3 linked regions of the Homo sapiens genome follow. The protein of the gene in region 2 purifies or fractionates together with the protein of the main gene of each other region. This does not show direct contact. Each region holds a gene or a part of one and is shown on either strand. Other genes may lie near its edges.

Evidence for each region.
Region 1: the proteins of VDAC1 (region 2) and UQCRC2 fractionate together in Homo sapiens (co-fractionation; 3 studies listed by BioGRID, with this or other methods). This does not show direct contact.
Region 3: the proteins of VDAC1 (region 2) and ATP1A1 fractionate together in Homo sapiens (co-fractionation; 3 studies listed by BioGRID, with this or other methods). This does not show direct contact.

Annotation. Positions count from the first base shown.
Region 1 is NC_000016.10:21,959,724-21,963,374, reverse strand, and holds part of UQCRC2 (cytochrome b-c1 complex subunit 2, mitochondrial precursor), read right to left. Parts: intron 916-3,651; coding exon 859-915; intron 615-858; coding exon 490-614; intron 1-489. UniProt on the Homo sapiens protein: Component of the ubiquinol-cytochrome c oxidoreductase, a multisubunit transmembrane complex that is part of the mitochondrial electron transport chain which drives oxidative phosphorylation.
Region 2 is NC_000005.10:133,998,409-134,002,059, reverse strand, and holds part of VDAC1 (non-selective voltage-gated ion channel VDAC1), read left to right. Parts: intron 1-3,651. UniProt on the Homo sapiens protein: Non-selective voltage-gated ion channel that mediates the transport of anions and cations through the mitochondrion outer membrane and plasma membrane.
Region 3 is NC_000001.11:116,397,119-116,400,769, forward strand, and holds part of ATP1A1 (sodium/potassium-transporting ATPase subunit alpha-1), read left to right. Parts: intron 1-769; coding exon 770-920; intron 921-1,502; coding exon 1,503-1,671; intron 1,672-1,811; coding exon 1,812-1,966; exon of another isoform or gene 1,967-2,196; intron 2,197-2,301; coding exon 2,302-2,425; intron 2,426-3,651. UniProt on the Homo sapiens protein: This is the catalytic component of the active enzyme, which catalyzes the hydrolysis of ATP coupled with the exchange of sodium and potassium ions across the plasma membrane.

The sequences.
Region 1 (3,651 bases), on a different chromosome or scaffold from region 2:
TTTAGAAACAAAAGAATAATAAATCTAAATAACAAATTTTTGAAAAAGATATTTTCAAATTCAAGGAGTAAAACATTTGGCCAGGCATGGTGGCTCACACCTGTAACACCAGCACTTTGGGAGGCTGAGGTGGGTGGATCACTTGAGGCCAGGAATTCAAGACTGAACTCCAGTCTGACCAACATGGCAAAACCCTGTTTCTACTAAAAATACAAAAAATTAGCCAGGTGTGGTGGTGCACACCTATAATTCCAGCTGCTCAGGAGGCTGAGGCAGGAGAATTGCTTGAACCCGGGAGCTGGAGGTTGCAGTGAGCCAAGATCGTGCCACTGCACTCCAGCCTGGGTGACAGAGTGAGACTCTGTCTCAAAACAATAAATAAATAAAAATAAAAATAAAAATTTTGACAGCAATTTTTTTTCTTCTATAAATTGATCTTCTAAAAAACCCAGTATCTTAGAATCAAATGTGATCTGGAAATGTACTTACGAGTCTGCGGATTCTGAAAGGCCACAGCTTTGTCAATCTTTAGCTGAGGCTGAAGGTCAGCTACTTCCCAACGACGAAATTCTGGTGCTGTGGTGACATTGAGCAGGAACTCCATTAGAATATCACTACAGAAGACATCGAGATAAGAATTATGAGTCAAAAATGTAAAGCCAACATTTGAGATTCTACATAGCTGTAATGCTCTCAATGTGAAACTTTAGGTCTTGTGGTAAGCAGTGTTTTTGAGCAGTTTATGAACAATAATCCAAAATGGAAGTCAGAGGTCATAATGACGCATTACAAAGACCAGAAGTGAGCAGCTTAGTATTTCTTTCAAAGCAGAAGTCCTAAACACACACAGGTACTTACACATCACCCCGCAGGCATTCCACAGTATAAGCCATGTTTTCCCTTGTTGCGGTCACACTGAATCGGAAAATAAACTAGAGTAAATCATCTGAATCAGGATAGTAAGCTTTCCCTTATAATCTTCTATCAACCAATTCCTTTGGAAAGAAAATTTCTGAAGTATAAAAGGTGCGAACAATAATATAACAAAACTCCACATATTAACCAACTAAAATTCAAAATTTTTTTAAAAACCAGCAAATAATTCAACCTTAAAAGGAGTGAAATCTGGTCACATGTTACAACACAGATGAACCCTGAGGACATTATGCTAAGGATAATAAGCCAGTCACAAAGGGACAAATATTGTATGATTCTACTTATGAGGTACCTGGAGTAGTCAAATTTGTAGAGACTGAAAAGAGAATGGCAGTTGCCAAAGGCTGAGGGGAGGGGAGAATGAGCAGCCATTGTTTAACAGGTACAGAATTTCAGGTGGGAGAAGATAGAAAAGTTCCGGAGCTGAATGTTGGTGATGGTTGCTGAATGCCACTTAACTGCACACTTAAGAAAATGATAAATTTGGGCCGGGCGCAGTGGCTCACACCTGTAATCCCAGCACTTTGGGAGGCCGAGGTGGGCGGATCACTTGAGGTCAGGAGTTTGAGACCAGCCTGGCCAACAGGGTGAAACCATGGTCTCTACTGAAAATACAAAAATTAGCCAAGCATGGTGGCGCACGCCTGTAATCCCAGCTACCACGGAGGCTGAGGCAGGAGAATCGCTTGAACCCAAGAGGCGGAGGTTACAGTGAGCCAAGATCATGCCACTGCACTCCAGCCTGGGCGACACAGCGAGACTGTCTAAAATATATATATATATATATATATATATATATATATATATATATAAATTTTATGTTATATACATTTGACCACAATTTTTTAAAATGGCAAATAAAGTTGAAGATCTTTTCGTACCCTTCCAAGACCAATTCCCTCACTCTCTCCCACTCTGGAAACCACAATCATAAGCACTACATAGTATTTTTCTGCTTAAAAAATTAAAATACCTTAAAGAAATCTTGAAACTTGCTTGTTCACACTCTATTTTGCCCTTCAGTTGTGCTATGTTGACGTATGGATCTAGTTCATTCCGTAATGGCTGTATAGTGGTCTCATCATGACTCTGTCATACTTTACCCATTTCCCTAAAGATGGACACTTAGATCGTTTCCAGTCTTTATAAAGAATACCTTTGTGAATGTGATTAAAAACTGTGGGGTTTTTCAATATTACCAGATATTCCTTGATTCTTTCCTAAGTGGTTGTATCAATTTATACTCCTATCAGCAGAATGAGACATTCTCTATCATCTTTACCACTGACAACACAATATATAAAAAATCTGGGCTGGGTGCAGTGGCTCACATCTGCAATCCCAGCATGCTGGGCTGAGGTGAGAGGATCACCTGAGGCCAGGAGTTCAAGACCAGTCTGGGCAACATAGTGAGACCTCCATTTGTACAAAAAATAAAAAATTAGCCAGGCATGGAGTCATGTGCCTATAGTCCTAGCTACTTGGGAAGCGGAGGGAGAAGAATCGCTTGGGCCCAGGAGTTCAAGGCTGCAATAAGGTATGTCTGCACCACTCCACTCCAGCCTGGGAAACAGAGCAAGACCCTGTCTTTAATATAAATTAATTAAAAAAAAAGAAATGCTGTTTCTGTCCTGAGTGTTCCACTGACCAGCTGCTCCCCAAGTCTTTCTCCCTCTCTTTGGATATTCCTACTCCTGAGACACAACAATATTGAAATTAAGCTAATGAATAACCCGACAATGGCCCCTAAGTATACAAGTGAAAGGAAGAGTCTCATGTCTCTCACTTTAAATCAGAAGCTAGAAAGGATTAAGCTTCTAAGGAAGTCAGGAAGGCATGTTAAAAACGGATACAGGTCAAAAGCTAGGCCTCTTGCACCAGTGCAGTTCTTGAAGAAAACTAATAGTGCTACTCCACTGAACACATAAATGATATGAAAGCAAGACAGACTTATTGCTGATAATACAGAGTTTTACTGGTCTGGATTAGATCAAACTGTATTCCCTTAAGTCAAAGCTTAATCCAGAGCAATGCCCTAACTCTCTTCAATTATATGAAGGCTGAGAGAGGTGAGATGCAGAAGAAAAGTCTGAAGCTAGCCGTGGTTAGTTCATGAGCTTTAAGGAAAGAAGCCATCTTCTTAATATAATAGTACACAGTGAAGCAGCAAATGCTAATATAGAAGCTGCAGCACGTTATCCAGAAGATCTACATAAGATCATCGATGAAGGTGGCTACACTAAACCACAGATTTTCAATGCTGACAAAACAGCCTTACATTGGAAGATGCCGTCCAGGACATTCGTAGCTAGAGAAGTCAATGCCTGGCGTCAAAGCTTCAAACGACAAGCTGACTCTTGTTGGGGACTAATGCAGCTGGTGACTTTAGGATGAGGTCATTTACCATTCTCAAAATCCTAGAGCCCTTAGGAATTATGCTAAATCTACTCTGCCTATGCTCTGTAAATGAACAAAAAAGCCTGGATGATAGTACATCTGTTTATAGCATGGTTGACTGAATATTTTAAGCCCATTGCTCAGAAAAAAGATTCCTTTCAAATTATTACTGCAACAATGCCAAGAGCTCTGATGCAGATGTACAAGGAGATTGACACTGTTTTCATGCCTGCTAATAGAACATCCCTTCTGCACCCCATGGATCAAGGAGTAATTTTTATTTTCAAGTCTTATTATTTAAGAAATACATTTTGTAAG
Region 2 (3,651 bases):
GGTTGAGGACCAGCCGAAGCTTGGAGGCAGCCCCTCCTGGTGCTCAGAGATTCTGTAGTCTGCGGCTTTGGGTTTTCCATGGAGTCCTGTGGTAGCCACTGAGAAAAGTTGACCAGTGGGCTCCTCAGCTGGGTCTGGGCGCATTTCTCCATTTTACCACGTACTCAGGGGGTTTGGGATGAGTGGGACTTTAAGTTCTTTACTCAGAACTGTGCTGGAAAGAGCACTGGAGAGTAGCTTAGGCCCATAACACAGGTCTGGTGAGCCATAGGGTCGGTCTCATACAGGTCAAGTCACTGTCTTGTGCCTCAGTTTCTCTCTCTCTTTTTTTTTTTTTTTTTTTTAGATGGAGTCTCACTCTGTTGCCCAGGCTGGAGTGCAGTGGTGCAATCTCGGCTCCCTGCAATCTCTACCTCTCGGGTTCAAGCAAGTCTCTGCCTCACCCTCTCGAGTAGCCGGGATTACAGGCGCCTGCCACCATGCCTGGCTAATTTTTTTGTATTTTTTAGTAGAGATGGGGTTTCACCATCTTGGCCAGGTTGGTCTTGAACTCCTGACCTCCTGATCCACCCGCCTCGGCCTCCTAAAGTGCGGGGATTGCAGGTGTGAGCCACTGAGCCCGGCCGAGTTTGTCTGCTATAAAAGTATGATTGTCGTCATTACAGTGATTGCTGATTGAGGGCTTGCTCAGCACCTTTCTGGGGGCTCAACGAATGTTCTGTGATGTTGAGTTCACCACCCTATACCCTGGGAGAGAGATAGTGTGTTTCCATTTCACAGGTCAGCAGACTCGAGCACAGAGAGGTGAGGTAACACAGCCTGGCAGGAGTGGAGTTGGGATTCAAGGCCTGGTCTGAATGGTGGTGCTCTCACATTGCAGTTGCACTCCAAGGGACCCTTGCAAGGTGCTAACAGATGTGAATGCCTTTTGGAAAGTCAAAATTGGTGTTCAGATGGGAGACATTATTTTTCCACACCAGTCAGAGTGAACTTGTGCATGGCTGTGTGCGGGCCAACTGGCAGTGGACAATGGAGTCACCTCTATTTCTTGCAAGGACAGTGGTGCTGAGTGTCTATTATAAGGGTCCGTTTTCCCTGGGATCTGGTGGGAGGCATTCTTTCAGGACCTGTTCAGCTAAACAATGCCTCATTGTGGACATGAAGGACTCTGGACCCTGTGGTTCAGGGTGACCTTTTGAACATGCTTAGCAGCCATTATTATAATAAATATACAAAATGAAAACTTGTGATAAAATACTGTGTGTATTCCCTGCTTACCAAGCGCCAGCCACTGTACCAAGTGTTGTATATTAACGAGCTAATTCAGTCCTCACAGTGACGCCATCCAGGCTCTCTTTCTCCATATTAGAGCTGAAGAAAAAGGAGTAGAGAGGTTGCGACTTGCCCAAAGTCACATACCTAGAAAGTGGTGGGGTGGGTTAGAACTCAGGTCTATTTGATTCCCGAGGCTTCCTGCCCAAGCACTGTCTGTCTCAACCCTACCTGGTCAAGCCAAGCAGTGAGGCTCCAGGGAACTTGAGGTGCCTTAGGTCAGGTAGGAGCCCCAGGTATGCCTGGGATCCAGACCATAGTGTACTGGCTGCCAGCGCAGGCCATCTCCCCTTGATAGGTGGGTGGGCAGGCTGCCCTGAGTCAGCAACCTCTTGAGCCCAGGAGCTCAGCATGGAACTCAGCTGTGCTGGTGGTGGCCCAGCTGCCAGGGTGTTTCAAAATAGAAGCTACCCCTGGAAAGCTCTACTGCCCACTGCGAGACTGTTGTGGAAGAATGGAGGGAGAGAACAGCTGCATTGGGTACGCAGACCTGCTACCAGAACACAGGGCCATCAGCCTTTGCCAGCATCCTGGAGCTTGAACCAGGAACTGTTCCCCTGGGTTGTTTCTTCCTGGCAAGAAAGAGAAAGTGCTGGAGTGTGTGTGTGTGCATGCGTGCATGTGTGTGAGCGAGCTGCTGATTGTGTTCGCCCCCATGTTGGCTTTTAGAGCTAGGGTTGCCTTCTGCTGGGGAAGTTGCTTTTCCTGGTCCTCAGGGCTAGGAAGAGGTGCTGTTTCTGTGATCACTGGCTGGTCTGATACCCCTCCTATAGGCTGGCCTAGTTCTGCCCTGACAAACCACCTAGAATGGTGTTGGTGAAACAGCGGGGCCAGAGACTTTTCCATAGTACTCTCTTCCTTGGCAGAATCATAAGATGATGGCAATGATGATGATGATGGTTGTGATTGCTCTGTTGGTTAGCGTCTTTGCAGGGATCTGGTGCACACTTACACTTGGTAATCCAGGAGAGTTTAATGAAGACATCATTTGCAAAGCTGTGGATGGGGTGTCAGGTCTGGTCTGTTAACACCCTGAGGCCTACAAGAGAGGGAGCTTCTTGGCAGGAGCTGTGGCCTTGGGTAGAGGAAGGTAGTCATTGCCCATCTGAAGCCTAGCAGGGAGGGAGACTCGGGGTGAGTACCCCGACTTCATTCTTCCCTAAACTCCCGTCTTCTGCAAGTACCTCACGTTGAAAGGCTAAGCCCAATCATAAGCCCATGGACAGCAGTCCATAATGATCAGTTCTGGGGGCACAGAGCAGGGTGGAAGGGAGGAGAATGGATCTGGAGGGGCAGACAGAGTATCCAGTGTAGTGGATTATGGTTATTACTGCCATTTGTTGAACACTTACTCCATGCCAGATACTTCTGCTGTTCTGCCTGTTTCACTCATTCCTTGTAACAACTTCCTTAGGCCTAAGGCCTTTCCTCCCAGCTGTTTTTAGCTGAGTCTTGGAGACCCATGGCCACCCTGCTCCCTGTATCAACCATTGCAGTAGTTGTTGGCTCTCTAGGGGTGCAAAGCTCATCTGCCTGAATCCTTCTATTATTACTATTTATTTCTTTTTATTTTTTATTTAAAAGAGACAGGGTCTCACTGTATTGCCCAGGCTGGTCTCGAACTCCTGCATTCAGGCGATCCTCCTGCCTCAGCCTCCCAAAGTGCTGGGATTAGAGGCGTGAGCCACCATGCCTGGCACATGCCTGAATCCTTTTGAGGGAGCCTCTGCAGAGAAGAGAGCATATTTCTACCAGGCGGGGGCCTGGTAGGTGCTTAGTGCAGGAACCGCCCTGAGCTGCTGCTTCTCAGTGGCACCTGGGGGCAGCCCTGCCTGTTAGGCACAGGCTGAGAGGTAGGGCAGGAGGAGTTCCATCTCTTCTGGCAGGCTCTTCTTGAACAAGCGCCTCCGGTGATTCTTGTGCACCCTGAAGTTAGGGAGCTCTTTCCTGCTCATGATTTCTGGCAGGGTGGCCAAGCCACTAGTGGTCACCTGGGAGTGAAATGTGCCCCGACGGACCTTGCCTGATAACTCTTCCATCTCAGTGTAGTTTAAATCTGTTCTTGCAATCTGTATGGACACTCTAGGTAGCCTTCTGGCATTGCTACTGCAGCAGCCTTGGAACGTGATTTGGGACACAACACAGCTCAATTTCAGGCACAGTGGTTGGCTTTTAAAGTGCTGTTTTTTTGGAGAGGGAGTCTCTCGCTCTGTCACCCAGGCTGGAGTGCAGTGGCACGATCTTGGCTCACTGCAGCCTTTGCCTTTGGGTTCAAGTGATTCTCATGCCTCAGCCTCCCAAGTAGCTGGGATTACAGGC
Region 3 (3,651 bases), on a different chromosome or scaffold from region 2:
TTCCAGGTCCACACTAACAAAATAAAATAAGGAAGGGACAATTACTTAGGCCATTCAGGCAAACACAGGAGACATTTGGCAATGAAGTAAAACAGATAATAGCAAATTGGTTTTGTTTTAAGGTTTAGGGCCCTTTCACCCTATGTTACGGTTAGAGGAGGGTTTGGTCTTGTATCAGCTCTGCCACTTTCTAAAACTTGGTTATATTTCTTTTTTTCTTTGATGGAGTCTCGCTCTGTCATCCCGGTTGGAGTGCAGTGTCATGATCTTGGCTCACTGCAACCTCCACCTCCTGAGTTCAAGTGATTCTCCTGCCTCAGCCTCCCAAGTAGCTGGGATTACAGGCCCCAACCACCATGCCCGGCTAATTTTTGAATTTTTAGACCACCATTTTGGCAAGCTGGTCTCGAACTCCTGACCTCAAGTGATCCACTCACCTCAGCCTCCCAAAGTGCTGGGATTACAGGCATGAGCCACACACCCAGCTAAAACTTGGTTATATTTCAGCATGTCTAATAAAGATAGGGAAAGGAAGAATACAGACAGGCCTGCCTTAGAGATCATCATGAGCCTCAAATGAGATAAAATATATGAAAATGCTCTGTAACCTGTAAAGTACTGAACACTTAATAGCTTTTATGTGCTGGGGAAAATTCCTTCTTTGTTTTGTTTACAAAGTGATCTGCATAAGAATATCCCCTCTTGAGGTGATGGACACATGCTGGTGATGTGATGCGTGACTTTTTTTTTTTTTTTGTCCTAATTCTAGGGATGCCAAGGCCTGCGTAGTACACGGCAGTGATCTAAAGGACATGACCTCCGAGCAGCTGGATGACATTTTGAAGTACCACACTGAGATAGTGTTTGCCAGGACCTCCCCTCAGCAGAAGCTCATCATTGTGGAAGGCTGCCAAAGACAGGTCAGCCAGCACAAGGATCAGGCTGCTTTGGGCACTATTGGCTTTAGGGATTGGAGTTCCAGTGGAAACAGAGCAACGGTGATGGATGGATGCATACCTCGCTGTATTAGACTCAGTATAAATAGGCCAGTAGGAAGCTCATAGGCATAGAGAGGGTGACTTGTTAATGGTTTAGCAGTGACAGAAGCACTTTAAAGTCCAGGTGTCCACTGTGTCCCAGAGCCTGACCGCTCCGTGGAGTCATCTGATATGGGGTCCTAGTATTTGCAATAGAGATGTGAGTGGTCAGACTACAGGGCGTGCATACAGGAATGGCATTTTCTGGAGTGCCACCCACCAGAGTCATTACTTTGAGTAGCTCTTGTTAATGCTGGGGGCTATGTTTGTTGTCACTTCTCAGTTCTGTTATTTGGTGTAGGGCCTGTGTGAATACTTGCCTGTGACGGTTCTCAGGCTTCATAAATAGTCTCAATAGGAAAGGAGCAGTGTCTGTAATGAGTGCTCAGTGGGGGCATGCATCGCACTATTTCCATCGCTAGGAAAAGTGATTGGTATTAACCCGTTTTCCCTTTTCTGGGGTAGGGTGCTATCGTGGCTGTGACTGGTGACGGTGTGAATGACTCTCCAGCTTTGAAGAAAGCAGACATTGGGGTTGCTATGGGGATTGCTGGCTCAGATGTGTCCAAGCAAGCTGCTGACATGATTCTTCTGGATGACAACTTTGCCTCAATTGTGACTGGAGTAGAGGAAGGTGAGAGCTATTTAAGGTGTACACCAAGATCTTATTCAGATACTGCCCATTAGCATCCATTTCTGTATACTTCTTGGATATGTTCAGTTTCCAGTGTGCTTGTCTCATAAGCTAACAGTAAAAAATCTTGGTTTTCATAGGTCGTCTGATCTTTGATAACTTGAAGAAATCCATTGCTTATACCTTAACCAGTAACATTCCCGAGATCACCCCGTTCCTGATATTTATTATTGCAAACATTCCACTACCACTGGGGACTGTCACCATCCTCTGCATTGACTTGGGCACTGACATGGTGAGTGTCACAACAGTCACAGATCGATAGTAGTGAGGTGTGAGCTGTGTCTTCATTCACTGGCACTATGCTCCCAGCATCCATGAGGCTGGCGTTGGGAAAAGAAATTCTCAGGACCAGTATCCAGTGTGTGTCCCAATCCCGGCTTCACAGAATCAGTATTACCACTCTTCAAGGCAGCAGTTAACATTTGTTTATCAGATGGGAATCTTTATTTTTGTATACTTCACCTAAAAGATTTTTAAATGGGAGGGCAAGAATTTTATAACAAAAGGTTCACAATATTAGCTTCCTTATTTTTAGTAACTAAATTCCTTCTCCCCACCCCTTCCCAGGTTCCTGCCATCTCCCTGGCTTATGAGCAGGCTGAGAGTGACATCATGAAGAGACAGCCCAGAAATCCCAAAACAGACAAACTTGTGAATGAGCGGCTGATCAGCATGGCCTATGGGCAGATTGGTAAGCTGCAGCCTGGAGTGGGAAGCTGGCACATCTAAGGCATCTGAGGTGATGGTGTCCACCTCAGGTTGAGGTTGATTTCAGAGACTGCAAATCCAGGCGACTTTCAGGTCTAGGATGAGCCCTAACGGAGTGAGCCTGTGGAGTTTCTCTGAACTCTCTTCCATGTGAGAATACATCTGTTGCTGTTTGCCCAGTTACCTTTTGTGGAAACTGGTTTTCTATACTGAGCACCTTGGAACTGGGCTCAACTCTGCCTGAGAAATGAGGATGTCCTTCCTCACTGAGCCTTGCGGAACAGGAGGCATGGTTCTAAGGAATTGTGTGTACTGACGCACAGGCTGCTTTCCCTGGAGATACACACTTATCTGTCACTCACTTGGATGGAGTTAGGCATTGGAGAAAGTATATGTGTTTGAGAGTTTGGCTGGTAGGTCACCACCAAAGGGTGATCCTCCATCCACCTCACACTGGACTTCTGCCCCCACAGTGCAGCATGACTAGCTAACAGGTGATCCAGGTGGTGGGCAATCAGCATGCCATTTGTTTTTAAATCCTCTGCCTAGGGTTCCTTCAAGAGAACCTGGCAAAGCCACCATGGATGTCTTATTCTCCTGGATTAATGGGTCACATAACTGTGAACGCTTGGATAAAGAAGAACAGATTAGATAGAATATTGTGGAAATTATGGCAAAGATTCATTAGACAGTTGTTGGCAACAAAGTAATTGGCTGGTGGCCCATCCTGACCTTCTCCAAGGAGGCCTGCTTTTGAGAGGAAGGAAGACTAGGTCTCTGGTGGTTTAGGATGAAACCCTGCCCTGAGGAACTTGGAGCAGCGTGGTTAAATTGGATGCCAGGGGGAGGAGGGTCCTGAAGGTGGGGAGGAGAGTCAGAAAGTGCCACAGTGGCTAGAAAAATGGCAGCATGTAGGAATTTTGAAAGATGGAAAAGAAGTTATCATTTGTCAGAGATTAAAAAGTAGGGAAGTGGATTTCCCCTAAAGGTCATACCCTTAGAAGCAGCTGGTCAAGTAACAGGTGGGCATTTTGAGAGCAAGGCACATGTGTCTTTGTGTAGGCTCCAAAAAGTGACTCAAAAAGCAGAGGGCCCTGAGATTGGAGTGTATGCCTGGGGTCCTCCATCCCATCCCTCATAGCCTGTGAGTGACCAGGCAATTCTTTCCTGTGCTTTTATCAACCAGGGGGAAACACTCCTCCATATGTG